Homo sapiens: one gene and its partners. The protein of the gene in region 1 purifies or fractionates together with the protein of each later gene. This does not show direct contact. Each region holds a gene or a part of one and is shown on either strand. Other genes may lie near its edges.

Evidence for each region.
Region 2: the proteins of GOLGA6A (region 1) and MSANTD4 purify together in Homo sapiens (affinity purification with mass spectrometry; one large-scale study listed by BioGRID and IntAct). This does not show direct contact.
Region 3: the proteins of GOLGA6A (region 1) and STRN purify together in Homo sapiens (affinity purification with mass spectrometry; one large-scale study listed by BioGRID and IntAct). This does not show direct contact.

What each region holds. Positions count from the first base shown.
Region 1 is NC_000015.10:74,079,668-74,083,916, reverse strand, and holds the start of GOLGA6A (golgin subfamily A member 6A), read left to right. Parts: upstream 1-1,366; 5' UTR 1,367-1,407; coding exon 1,408-1,491; intron 1,492-3,181; coding exon 3,182-3,301; intron 3,302-4,249.
Region 2 is NC_000011.10:106,012,120-106,015,770, reverse strand, and holds part of MSANTD4 (myb/SANT-like DNA-binding domain-containing protein 4), read left to right. Parts: intron 1-1,729; exon of another isoform or gene 1,730-1,825; intron 1,826-3,651.
Region 3 is NC_000002.12:36,960,014-36,963,664, reverse strand, and holds part of STRN (striatin), read left to right. Parts: intron 1-3,651. UniProt on the Homo sapiens protein: Calmodulin-binding scaffolding protein which is the center of the striatin-interacting phosphatase and kinase (STRIPAK) complexes.

The DNA of each region.
Region 1 (4,249 bases):
GGTGGGGCCTGAGAATTTGCACTTATAAAAGGTTCTCAGGTTCTGCTGCTGCTGCTAGTCCAGAGACTACATTTTTGAGAACCACTCTTGTCTACTAACTGTAAATTGTAGAACTCTAGAACAAAGCTTAGTTTGGTGTAGGAAAAGACGCTCACAGGTTATGGAGCAAATCATGAAAGATTCAACCCTTGATCCCAGCCTAGTGTGGAATTCAGGTAACAATCAATACACAGTGACATAACACAATTCTTGGTTTTCATGATTGCAAGTCATAGCCAAGTATCAAGTGAGAAATTCAGTTTCATTTGCAAGGCTTAGAGAGGCCAGGTGATTCTAGAAAAATAGGCCTTGTATTTGCTTTAAACCAGTAAAGAGCTTTGAGTGCTTATTAAATGGAAAGCTTTGTGTTTTTATTTATTTTTGACTATTTTATTTTATTTTTTTGAGATGGAGTCTCAGTCTGTCACCCAGGCTGGAGTGCAGTGGCGTGACCTTGGCTCACTGCAACTTCCGCCTCCCGGGTTCAAGTGATTCTCCTGCCTCAGCCTCCCCAGTAGCTGGGATTACGGGTACCCACCACCACACCTGGCTAGTTTTTGTATTTCGAGTAGAGACAGGGTTTCACCATGTTGGCCAGGCTGGTCTTGAACTCCTGACCTAAGGTGATCCACCCACCTAGGCCTCCCAAAGTGCTGGGATTACAGGTGTGAGCCACCACACCCGGCCCAAAAGCTTTGTGTTTTTAAAGATATTAGACATGTTTCTTGTTTTTTAAAAAATCTTAATAATGTAGGAGAATAAGAGAAATGTTTTTTCCAAAGCCGAGAAATCATTGTGATTATTTTACCTTATTGGGATGTTGGATAATATAGTCCACTTCATTCATTAATCATCAAACATGCTATGGATTTTCCATTTTTATAGGATTTGTGTCTTAACTGGGGTAATACTGGTAATTCTTATACTCCCTCTGAAGATGAAAAATGTAGGCCAAAATCATAGACCATGCATAGAAGCTGGATAATGAAGACAGCTCTGGAGGAACATGTAGACACACACACACTGACACACATATATATAAAGTATAAATACATATTTTTTTAAAGTTTATTTTTAACATTTTAAAGCAAAAACCAGCCCTCCCCTCTCCCGGAGTAGGCAGGCCCCGCCCCTCTCCCCAAGTGGGCAGGGACAGCAGTCGCATGGGCAGCTTTCCTTGTGATGTCACAGGTTCCTCTGGGCACACTGCTGCCTGGCCACGCCTCCTTTCCCTTTCATCTTTCTCATTGACCAATGGGATTGGAGCATTAAGGCCACACCCCTATTCTGCATTCTAGTGTGGCCCTGGTTACGCCTCCTCTGGCTCAGTCACACAGCAGCCTTGTAGGTGACTGGAGGTGTTCGCTGATGTGGCCCCAACCCTACCTCCCTCCCCACCCCATGATGTTAGAAGAATCTCGACAGAATAAATTGGCAGCAGCCAAGAAAAAGGTAAAAAGCCAAGAAAAAGGTCATGGCCCCCCAACCTAGCCAGAGATCCCCTCTGATGACAAGACCACTCCCAGAGTCCATACCACTCCTGAGGCACACCGGGCTGGGCCCCCCTACCCCGGCGCCTCTGGACTCCCCCCACCAACGTCTTGTCAGTCAGCCCCGCCCCTTCAGCAAGCAGCCCAGCCTCTGCCCTCGCCAATCACCCTGCGGTGACTTTGGGCGGATGACTACTGGGGATACCTGCTCCATATTCAGCCCTCACGTCCTGCCACCCCAAGCCCAACCTCCCTGGGTTCTTTGGGCTCACCTCTCCAAGGACCTGGGTCCCCCAGCCCCAACCCCCCAGCATCGCCAGTCATCCCGGGGTGACTTTGGGCTGGTGACTCCTGGGGTTCCCTGAGCAGACTCTGCTCTCCCCTCCTGCTGACCCAAGCCCGACCTCCCTGGGCTCTCTGGACTGGCATCTCCAAGGACCTGGGTCCCAGCCCCACGTCCCCCCTCCCCCATCGTGGATCGGCAACTCAGCCATTGCACTGATGAGGTTTCCCCCACCCCCAGGAGGAGTGGAATGTAGTGATGTCACAGTCCTCCTAGGAACTGTCATTACTGCTGCAAGACCGGCCTTTGATCTTATAACCCAGTCCCCTAAGCATTCTCACCCCATTTCTGGTTCCTCTGGTCACAGCACAAATTTCCAGCTAGAAGGGAAATGGGGACCATGGGACCTAGGAGCAAGAGGTTTCAGGCTGCCTTACTCCCTTCACATAGACATCGACAGTGTGAAAAGCCTACACTTCCCCTGTGAGCTCAAAACGTTGACAGTATCTCTGGGTGGTAATGGGAGAATGGGTTTGGTTTGGTTTTCTCCCAGGCTTCTACTCTCCAGAGAGACTTTAACATTTTTTTCCGAGTTCTCCACCTCATATTCTAATTCTCCACGGTTCTGGGACCAGACTGCCCTTCAGTCAGTGGTCTCTGAAGTGAGATTTGCTCATCTTCTGTGGAATAGGTCTTGGGAAACTGAACTTGACAGCTTGAATCTTCCTCATATCATCTCAACTTAGGGTACATTGAGTGCCACAGGATAAATGTGGGAGATCTTTCTGAAGCATCAGTTTCCCTTGATTCTCTTGAGAGAGAAAAAACATTAATGTACTTAGGGGTGACCCTCACATAGGTTTCTAAGAGTATACCAGACTTCTCTCTGAAATGAGACTTGGGTTGTCCTCTTTCTGATAAATTCCCAGATTTAACAAAAAAGCTGCCTTCTGCCATGAGGACACATTGATATAAAAGTTTGAGAGATACTGGTGCACTTCTTCACACTAACAGGCATTTGAGGATGTATGACTCTAAACCACACAGCGTGTAGTTCATGCCTATGTAATGTTTACTTTTCTACCTCTGCGTCTGGTTTTGGTCCCCGGCAGCTGCTGATTCATGGCAAAACCCCAGAGCTTGGAGTCAGAAGACTGAGTTTAAGTTCCATTATTGCCCCCCCACACTTTTTTTTTTAGCCATAATATCCATCCCTCTCAGTCACTTAAGTGATTGTGACAACACCTTGTACAGTTGTTGGTGGCATTAAATCAGATGGTGTATAAGAGTATTTTGCAAAAACTGTAAGGAGGGTGTGGCTGTAAGGGCTGGTAGTTCTCATGAGTATTACTGCTCTTCTTTCCCACAGCTAAAAGAATATCAGCAAAGGAAGAGCCCTGGTATTCCAGCAGGAGCAAAGACAAAAAAGAAAAAAACTGACAGTAGCCCTGAGACAACCACTTCCGGTGGTTGCCACTCACCTGGGGATGTGAGTCTTGGCTGGCCAGGCTCCTGGGGACAGGGGGCCCAAGGGGCAGTAGAGGGTAATTGTTGAGATTGCTGGGTACTGGTTAAGAATTCTGGGTTTGAATCCTGCTTCTTCATCTGCTAGCGATCTGATTTATGGCAAGTTGCTTGAGCTCTTTGGGCCTCTCTTTTCACATCTGTAAAATAGGGGTAGTATTGTTTGACTTCCATTTGTGAAGTTTAAATGAGATTCCTTATTGTTGTTGTTTTCATGTTAACCCCCAGTACGTGGCCTGCTGTAAACACCCAGGATACCCAGGAAATGGTCATTGCTGTTTGATTTTCCTGATCCCCACTCGCAAGGGGAAGCTGGGCTAATGAGTACAGCCACTTGCCATCAGGCTGTCCCTCTAGGAGTCACTGAAGGGGGCCCAGGGTGTGGTGAGGAGAGCCCAAGGCACTAGGAGCAAGAGAAGGTCTAACTTGCCACCAGCTTGCTGGGTGACCACAGAAAAATCACTTCTTCTGCTGGGCCTCAGTTTCCTCCTCTGTAAGATGATACTGGATAAGATCAGTGTCTTTCAAACTTGTTTTTTAGCTGAAGTCCCCTTAGTTCAAGTGAACTCTTACTCAGGAGTCTGTTTTTTTTTAATGGAGGTGGAGGTCTGGAGCTCTACCAGATTCATCGCCCATGTCCTGGGCCTGAGGAGAGGGGTCCAGTGAGCGTATTAAGATCTGCATTGGTCAGCTGACTCCACTCTGTGACTGCGTCACTCGGGGGACTTTTCCATCTATTTTTTCCTGCCCCTGGCAAGGCAGCAGGTGGCCATTTGGAAGAATGGCACAGGCCATGGTTTTAATCTCCTCTGCTCTTCTTCAGCGTTTCCTTTTCCTGAACCCACATCTTCCTCCTACCCTGACTTTCTTGCTTCTCTCTAAGCCACTTCTGTCTTTCACCCCCTGCCCTTGT
Region 2 (3,651 bases), on another chromosome or scaffold:
AAAAATAATATAGCTGGAGTGTTCTAATAAAGCAGCTCTCTGCCCACTCAAAAAAAAAAAAAAGTTCTAATTTGACAATTCTGTAGTATTAGTAAGTGCCGTCTTGGCCAATTTTTAGCTCCTAACATGACATGGCTGAATGTGGAGTTGCAAAGAGATGTCCGCAATTGATTCTTGAGAGCTCTCATGGGCAGGTTCCACCACACTCCTAATGTAAGTATATATGTTATGAAGCATAATAATAAAGACCCATGGGACCTATCCCTCAACTTAGGAACTAAACAATTCCAATATTATTGTGACATTTTTGTTTCCTTTTGTCAAAGTTATTTAAATGTTTTGCCTTTGATGTGGCAAATACATAATAGTGCTTAATGTGCACCAGGAACTGTTCTCTTTGTTTGACTAAGTCCTTTAATCCTTATAGGATTTCTATGAAGTAATGTTATTATCATTTTACAAATAAAATTACGCATAGGGAAGTTAAGTAACTGAGGCCACACAGCTAGGAATTGCCAGAGCCAGGACTCTAACCCGGGTGGTCTGACTCCAGAATCTGTGCTCATAACTACTACACACACTACCTCTTTTGATGTTTCTATTTATAGATAAACTTTGCTTATATTATTTGCTTATATTCTAGAGGATAAAGGTTTACATTTGACTGTAAGAGGAGTATATCTCTAGGGCAGTATCAAGAGTGCTATTGTTGGTTATACATTCCAATTTTGTGGATTTCAATTTTATTATTAAATTTCTCTTGAGAAATTTTCAAAGTCTATAAGTCTACTTTAGAAATAGTTGGCTTGCAGTCTTCTTTTCTTTTGTTTTTGCATACGTTGCCCTTTTTTGTGGGTATGTGAAATTGACAGTGATTTCTTGAGAGTTCATTTCAGCTGTTTTGAATTTTTAGTTTTCTGACCTCTATTTCAGCAGCAAGTGGCAGTTCAGGAGATGGTTATTCCACATGAGTGATTGGAAACAAAGATGTGGTGATGGGCATATATTTGTTGATGTTATTAGACACGTACAAAGTCAGCTGAAGAAAGAATACCAAGAGCTTGAAAAGGAAAAATGCATAAAGGTTTAATGCAATGGTGATAAGAAATGCTTTGTTATTAAGTTTAAAAATAAGGTATTAGCATCCACTTTTCAGTCTAAAAGAGAAAAGATGATAGAAAAGATGTGCATTTTCTTATTCAATTTAGCCTTGCTTAATTGCTATATTTTTGCTTCAGTAGAAGATACTATTTGTATTGTGAATTAGAGTAGAACTATTTTTCACACTAATGAAAAGTTTAAATTGGCAGACAGAGTAAGAGAAAAGAAACCATGTGTTAAAAGGTAAACTGAGACATGATAACTTTTAACAAGTTTATTTGAGCAAACAGTGATTCTTGAATCAGGCAGCTCCAAACCAGAAGTGGTTTGGGGGCTCTGCAGTGGAAACACAAAGCGGGGAGGCTTTATAGGTCTAACAGAAGTAAAACAAAGTAAATATTTGATTGGTTACAGTTATAAGATTGTCTAATTTGACCTATCCTGCTGGAAGGTTACATAAGTTAGTTGCATAAGTTAGCTGACAGCTTCTGATTGCTTAGTCTTAAGTTTCTTTTTTAAAAAATATCGATATTTACCAAAAAAATAGCCCAAGTTAAGTGTTGCATATGTTTGCAAATGAAGCAAGGTTAAAGTCTCTTATGAGGCCTAACTGGTTTTGTCTGCTTAGGGATTCTTCAGGCCAGGTCTCCGGTCTAATTTACTTTAACAGGAGGTAGAGGAAATGTAACCGATTGAAAGAATTTTATCTGGACCTTCCACATAGGTAAGAGTCTCCTTTTGAAAATCTTTTACTAAATGACATCTCAAAACTTACCTTAGCAACACTTTTTTGTTGTTGTTGTTGTTTGAGACAAAGTCTCACTGTTTCCCCCAGGTTGGGGTGCAGTGGCACAATCTCGGCTCACTGCAACCTCCACCTACTGGGTTCAAGCGATTCTCATGCCTCAGCCTCCTGAGTAGCTGGGATTATAGGTGTGCACCACCATGCCCAGCTAATTTTTTGTATTTTTAGTAGATACGGGGTTTTGCCATGCTGCCCAGGCTGGTCTTGAACTTCTGAGCTCAGGCAATCCGCCCGCCTCAGCCTCCCAAAGTGCTAGGATTACAGGCATGAGCCACCGCGCCTGGGCAACAACACATTTTTAAGGTTTAGCTATCACAAGCTGCTAATAAAGTCAAAGTACATGTGACGTGAGGGAACCTGGTGGTAGTAAGTCTTGCCATTTAACTAGCTGTGTTGTGGGCAAATTAACCTCTCTGGATCTTGTTTTATAAATAGAAAGGCTGGTATCTCCCATTTAATGTTATGATGGGGTTTAAATGACAGGATTTGGAACTTCATGGATAGTTTGATACTTTTTTTCATATTGACAGGAAAAGTTTAAGGTCAAACAGTGATAGAGCTGGAAGGGATCTTAGTAATGTCATCCCATTTCACATTTTGTAGGGGAGGAAAAGTCAGCTCTGTAGCAGTTATCAGTGAGTGAATTTGAAGTCAGACAGCATGGTCTGTGTAAGGTACCCCTTACTCTTTCTGAGCCCTGTTTCCCCTTACATCTTTTAAAATCTCTTTTCCAAGTCAAAGTGCTTTTTTGACATCTATCCCTCAGTTGAATCATTATTATTCTCCTCAGTTGAATCAATATTAATAAAGCAATATGTACTATACTGTGTGAGACACTGGGACCTTTTTGGTAGATGACCTCATTTTCTGCCGCTATGAGACAATCGAGTCCCTGACTCACTCACCATCTGTTCCAGCCTCCTAGTATGCCTTCTGATAATGCAAAGGCTAGCTAGCACAAAAACTACACTTCCCCAATCCATTGCAGTGAGGATTGTGGATGTGCTTTAGATTCCACCAGATGCACTTATGTAAGGCTTGAATTCAAGGTAGATAAGAGAGTGAGGCATGTGAATCATCTGTTCTACTAGTGTGGGTCTAGCACAGACGTTTTACTGTGCATTAGAGTTATCTGGAGGGTTTATTGAAACACAGATTGCTAGGTCCCACTTCGAGAGTTCCCAGTCTGGAGAGGAGCCTAAAAAGTTTACATTTCTGACAAGTTTCAGGTACACCCTCTTTGACAGTCTGACAACCTGAGATTCTGGAAATTGGAGAAACATTGTCTCGTATCTAAAAGAAATGCTTACAAGAGAGGATCTTTTCCACTCAAAATCTGTATACAAATATTGCCACATGGATATTTTAAAATTTATTTAATGGAGACTCCAAGTATACGTACTTTCCTATTGTGCTCTTCAACTCTACAATTAAAGTGGCCCAGAAAAATACAAAGTACTGCTGAGAAATTCTCCAAAGAAAGGCACATAATTAAGAGCCTTAATTAGAAACAAAAATATAGTCCAGCCTGGTTTTGTTTGATGTTAGGGGCTTTTGTTTGGTGGTTTAAGGGAGGGGAGGATGGGGTGAGCTTTGAGGAACAGAATTACAAGGGCAAACCATGCAATGTGCACTAGTCTTTGAAAGGTTTAGGAATCTAAAAAATTTTTTTGGTGATATTTTCCTTTTTCTTTTTGAGTGATCATTTTTTTTTTTTTTTGGTTATCTTTTTTTGTTGATCTTTT
Region 3 (3,651 bases), on another chromosome or scaffold:
TTTTTTGACAGCATTTTCTGTTTTGTGTTCCAATTAAAGTTTCCACAGAGAAACTTTAAAAATGTGTCATTTTCCTAACAGGATGAATATGATATATTTTGGGGGGAAGAGTTTGCAGTAATCTCTGGTCTTTGTCCCCCCTTATTAGTGTAATTGGAAAAAAAATTATTACCATCGTTACATTTGAATCTTCTTTATTTTTCTTTTGCTACTGGAATTTTCTTAGAAACACAATAGGAAGTAAAATAGTTGAATGCGTTGTGATGAAATACGGCTCAGTTGGTGTCCTCCTTTTAATTTTTAAATCTCTTCCTAAGCCATTAACACCAGAGTCAACACAAATACCTTTAAGATGAAGTCAAATTTGCCTCTTCAAGAACCTGTCAGTCCTGCTCTTTCAGGTTGCCAGGGAAGACTTGTGAAAGGCAATCCAAGCTCTCATCTGCCTGGCCTGCCTTTACTGCTTCCTCCCTCCTTCAGATCTTGGGAGTAAGGAAAGGGCCACGTTATAGCAAAAACCTATTTATTTGTCACTTATTTCACTCTTGCTCATCTTATTTGATAAATTCTCTTTTTATTTTTGGTAATGCTCCCCTCCTCACATCCAGTTGAGATTAGGCAGTAGTTCATGGGGGGAAAAAAAGAATGATTAAGATTATTAGTGAGCTTTACATTTGTGAAAGGAATTGGAGAAGGAATACTAATAATATTTGAGAAAAATTTCTGTATGTGAGGCATTGTGCTAGATGACCTCAAAGAAACATGCAGTCTAGTTATTAGTACGATATAACTTGTAGAAGAATCAGAGTGTTTATCATTTGGGGAGAAGGCTAATTTCTTTAGAATAGTGAAGGAGAGGCCGGGCGCGGTGGCTCACACCTGTAATCCCCAGCACTTTGGGAGGCCAAGGCAGGCGGATCGTGAGGTCAAGATATCGAGACCGTCCTGGCCAACATGGTGAAACCTTGTCTCTGCTAAAAATACAAAAATTAGCTGAGCATGGTGGTGTGTGCTGGAGGCTGAGGCAGGAGAATCGCTTGAACCTGGGAGGCGGAGGTTGCAGTGAGCTGAGATCGTGCCACTGCACTCCAGCCTGGCGACAGAATGAGACTCCATCTTAAGAAAAAAAAAAAGAATAGTGAAGGAGAGAAGAGCCAGCAGTGAATGGGGAGAATAGCAGGAGTAAAGAACTTTATGAGTTCATGAGAACCTAAGGCTCAGTATTTGAAAATTACTGACTTATGAGAAAGCAGGCATGTAAATAAAAAATAAAAAATGTTGGCCCTAGATTTTGATATGTGTGTGGTGTGTGGTGTAGGAGAGGCCCTGATATTTACCTGTAAGTGTTAGAGTTGTATGAAAAAGGTGGCAAGATTGAGTAGCTTAGGGCATGTGGTGTGGAGGCTGTATGCTAGAGTTTTGGCATTAATAACTTGTATTTTCTGGGTTTTGGCATTAATAATTTGTATTTTCACTCCCCAAATATTTTTCAAGCATCTACTTCATGCCAGACCTTGTTCTAGATACCGGAGATACAACAGCAAAAATACAGATCTTGCCCTTATGAAGCTTAAATTGTTGAGGCAGGCAGACAGTGATAAATAAATACATAGAATGTTGGGAAAGAAAATAAGAGGATTTGAGAGGGTGGAATGGGGAAGAAAGGATTCACTGATAAGATGCCATTCGAGCTAAGACCTGAAAAGGTGATCTCTAAGGTGAGGAAAGAGCTTTCTACACAGAAGGAACAGCTGGGGGAAGGGAGCACGCTTGGAATATTTAAGGAATATCAAGGAGGGAAAAGTGGCTAGAGTAGAGGAAGAGAATGGAAGAAGTCATGTCAAACAGGTACTAATGGAAGAAGTCATGTCAGACAGGGTCTTGCCCATTGTAAGGACTTTGGCCTTATACCTCAGCAAGCTGAGCAGCCGTCGGAATGTTTTAAGCAAAAGAGTGACACCATCTTTAAAAGGGACCCCTTGTAAGGATTCAGAACAGACTTGGAGGGAAAACAAGTAGAAGCAGCAGGGGGACTAGTTAGGAGGCTACTTTAATAAATCCAGGCAGAAGATGAACTAAGGTGGTAGTGATAAGATATGTGAATATGTATTTGATACGTATTCAAAATACAGGATTCTGAATACATTTTTAAAGGTAGAGCCAACAAGATGTGCTAAAGGATAGAATGTGGGGTTTGAGAAAAAGGGGAGTCAAAGATGACTTAACAGTTTTTAGAGGGCCAGGTGCAGTGGCTCAAAACCTGTAATCCTGTAATCCCAGTACTTTTGGGATTGAGGCTGAGGCAGGAGGATCACTTGAGTCTAGGAGTTCAAGACTAGCCTGGGCAACATGGCAAAACCCCATCTCCAGAAAAAAAAATTTTTTTAATTAGCCGGGTTAGTCCCAGCTACTTGGGAGGCTGAGGTGGGAGGATTGCTTGGGCCTGGGAGGTTGAAGCTGCAGTGAGTCATGATCACTCCACTGCACTCCAGCCTGGGCGACAGAAGGAGACCCTGTCTCAGAAAAAAAAAAAAAAAAAAAAAAAAAAAGTGCAGCCTGGGCAACATGGTGAAGCCCCATCTCTACAAAAAATTCACAAAGTTAGCTGGGTGCGTTGGCATGCGTCTGTGGTCCCAGCTACTCGTGAGGCTGAGATGGGAGGATTGCTTGAGCCCTGGAGATCAAGGCTGCACTGCGTTATGATCATGCCCCTGCACTCTAGCCTGGGTGCCAGAGTGAGGCCCTGTCTCAGAACAAATCAATCAAACAAACAAACAAACAAAAATACATGGATATAGAGAGAATGAGCAGCCTCATAGGACAGCTGAGAAGATTTACTGAGCTTTTTAATGGAAAACATAAATACTTAAAATGAGTTTGTCTTTATTATTGTGACTATTATTTATAATTATCACAAAAGGCAATATGGCAGAGACCTGGGTTTAAAATTCTTGCTTTAAAACTTACTATTGTATTTTACGCCTAAAATACATATTTGCCGTAATTCTGATCTCTCAGAGCCTTAGTTTTCTCATGTGTAAGTTAAGGATAATAAATTACCTTGTGAGAATTAAATTAAGATAATTTAAAGTACTTAGCAGAGGCATGGTACATAAGATAAAGTAAGTGCTTAATAAATGGTTGCAGATGCATGATGCTAAACTTTTGCTCTCGGTTATCTCCTCATCCCCAGAGAAAAGCATAATCTTCAGTCATGAACTTTTCTGAGGCTGGAGCATACAAGTGCCATCCTGAGGCCATGCAGTGTAATATTCTGGGTCTGACCCAGGCACTAAGAGATATTTAATGGGAGTGAATGGTTGCCTTCAGTGTCAGCCTCAGAACATTGAGGATATACTTCAAGTGTATTTGCTTTCCTTTTAATAACCCAGTAGGTATCTGTTACCTTGAAATTCATATAAACTTTTCTGAATGTGTTTATCTTAACTTTGCATTACATCATGGGTAACAAATTGTGTAAATTTACTAACCACATTATGAAATGAATCCTACATTTTATTTGGCTCTTTAAGCCACTTCCTTTACATGTGGAGCAGGTGAACTCCATTGTCATATGGTATAATTTTGTCAGCAGGTTCATTTTTCATTCTACTCATATTCTTGATAATTTCATAATCTTTATATTTTAGA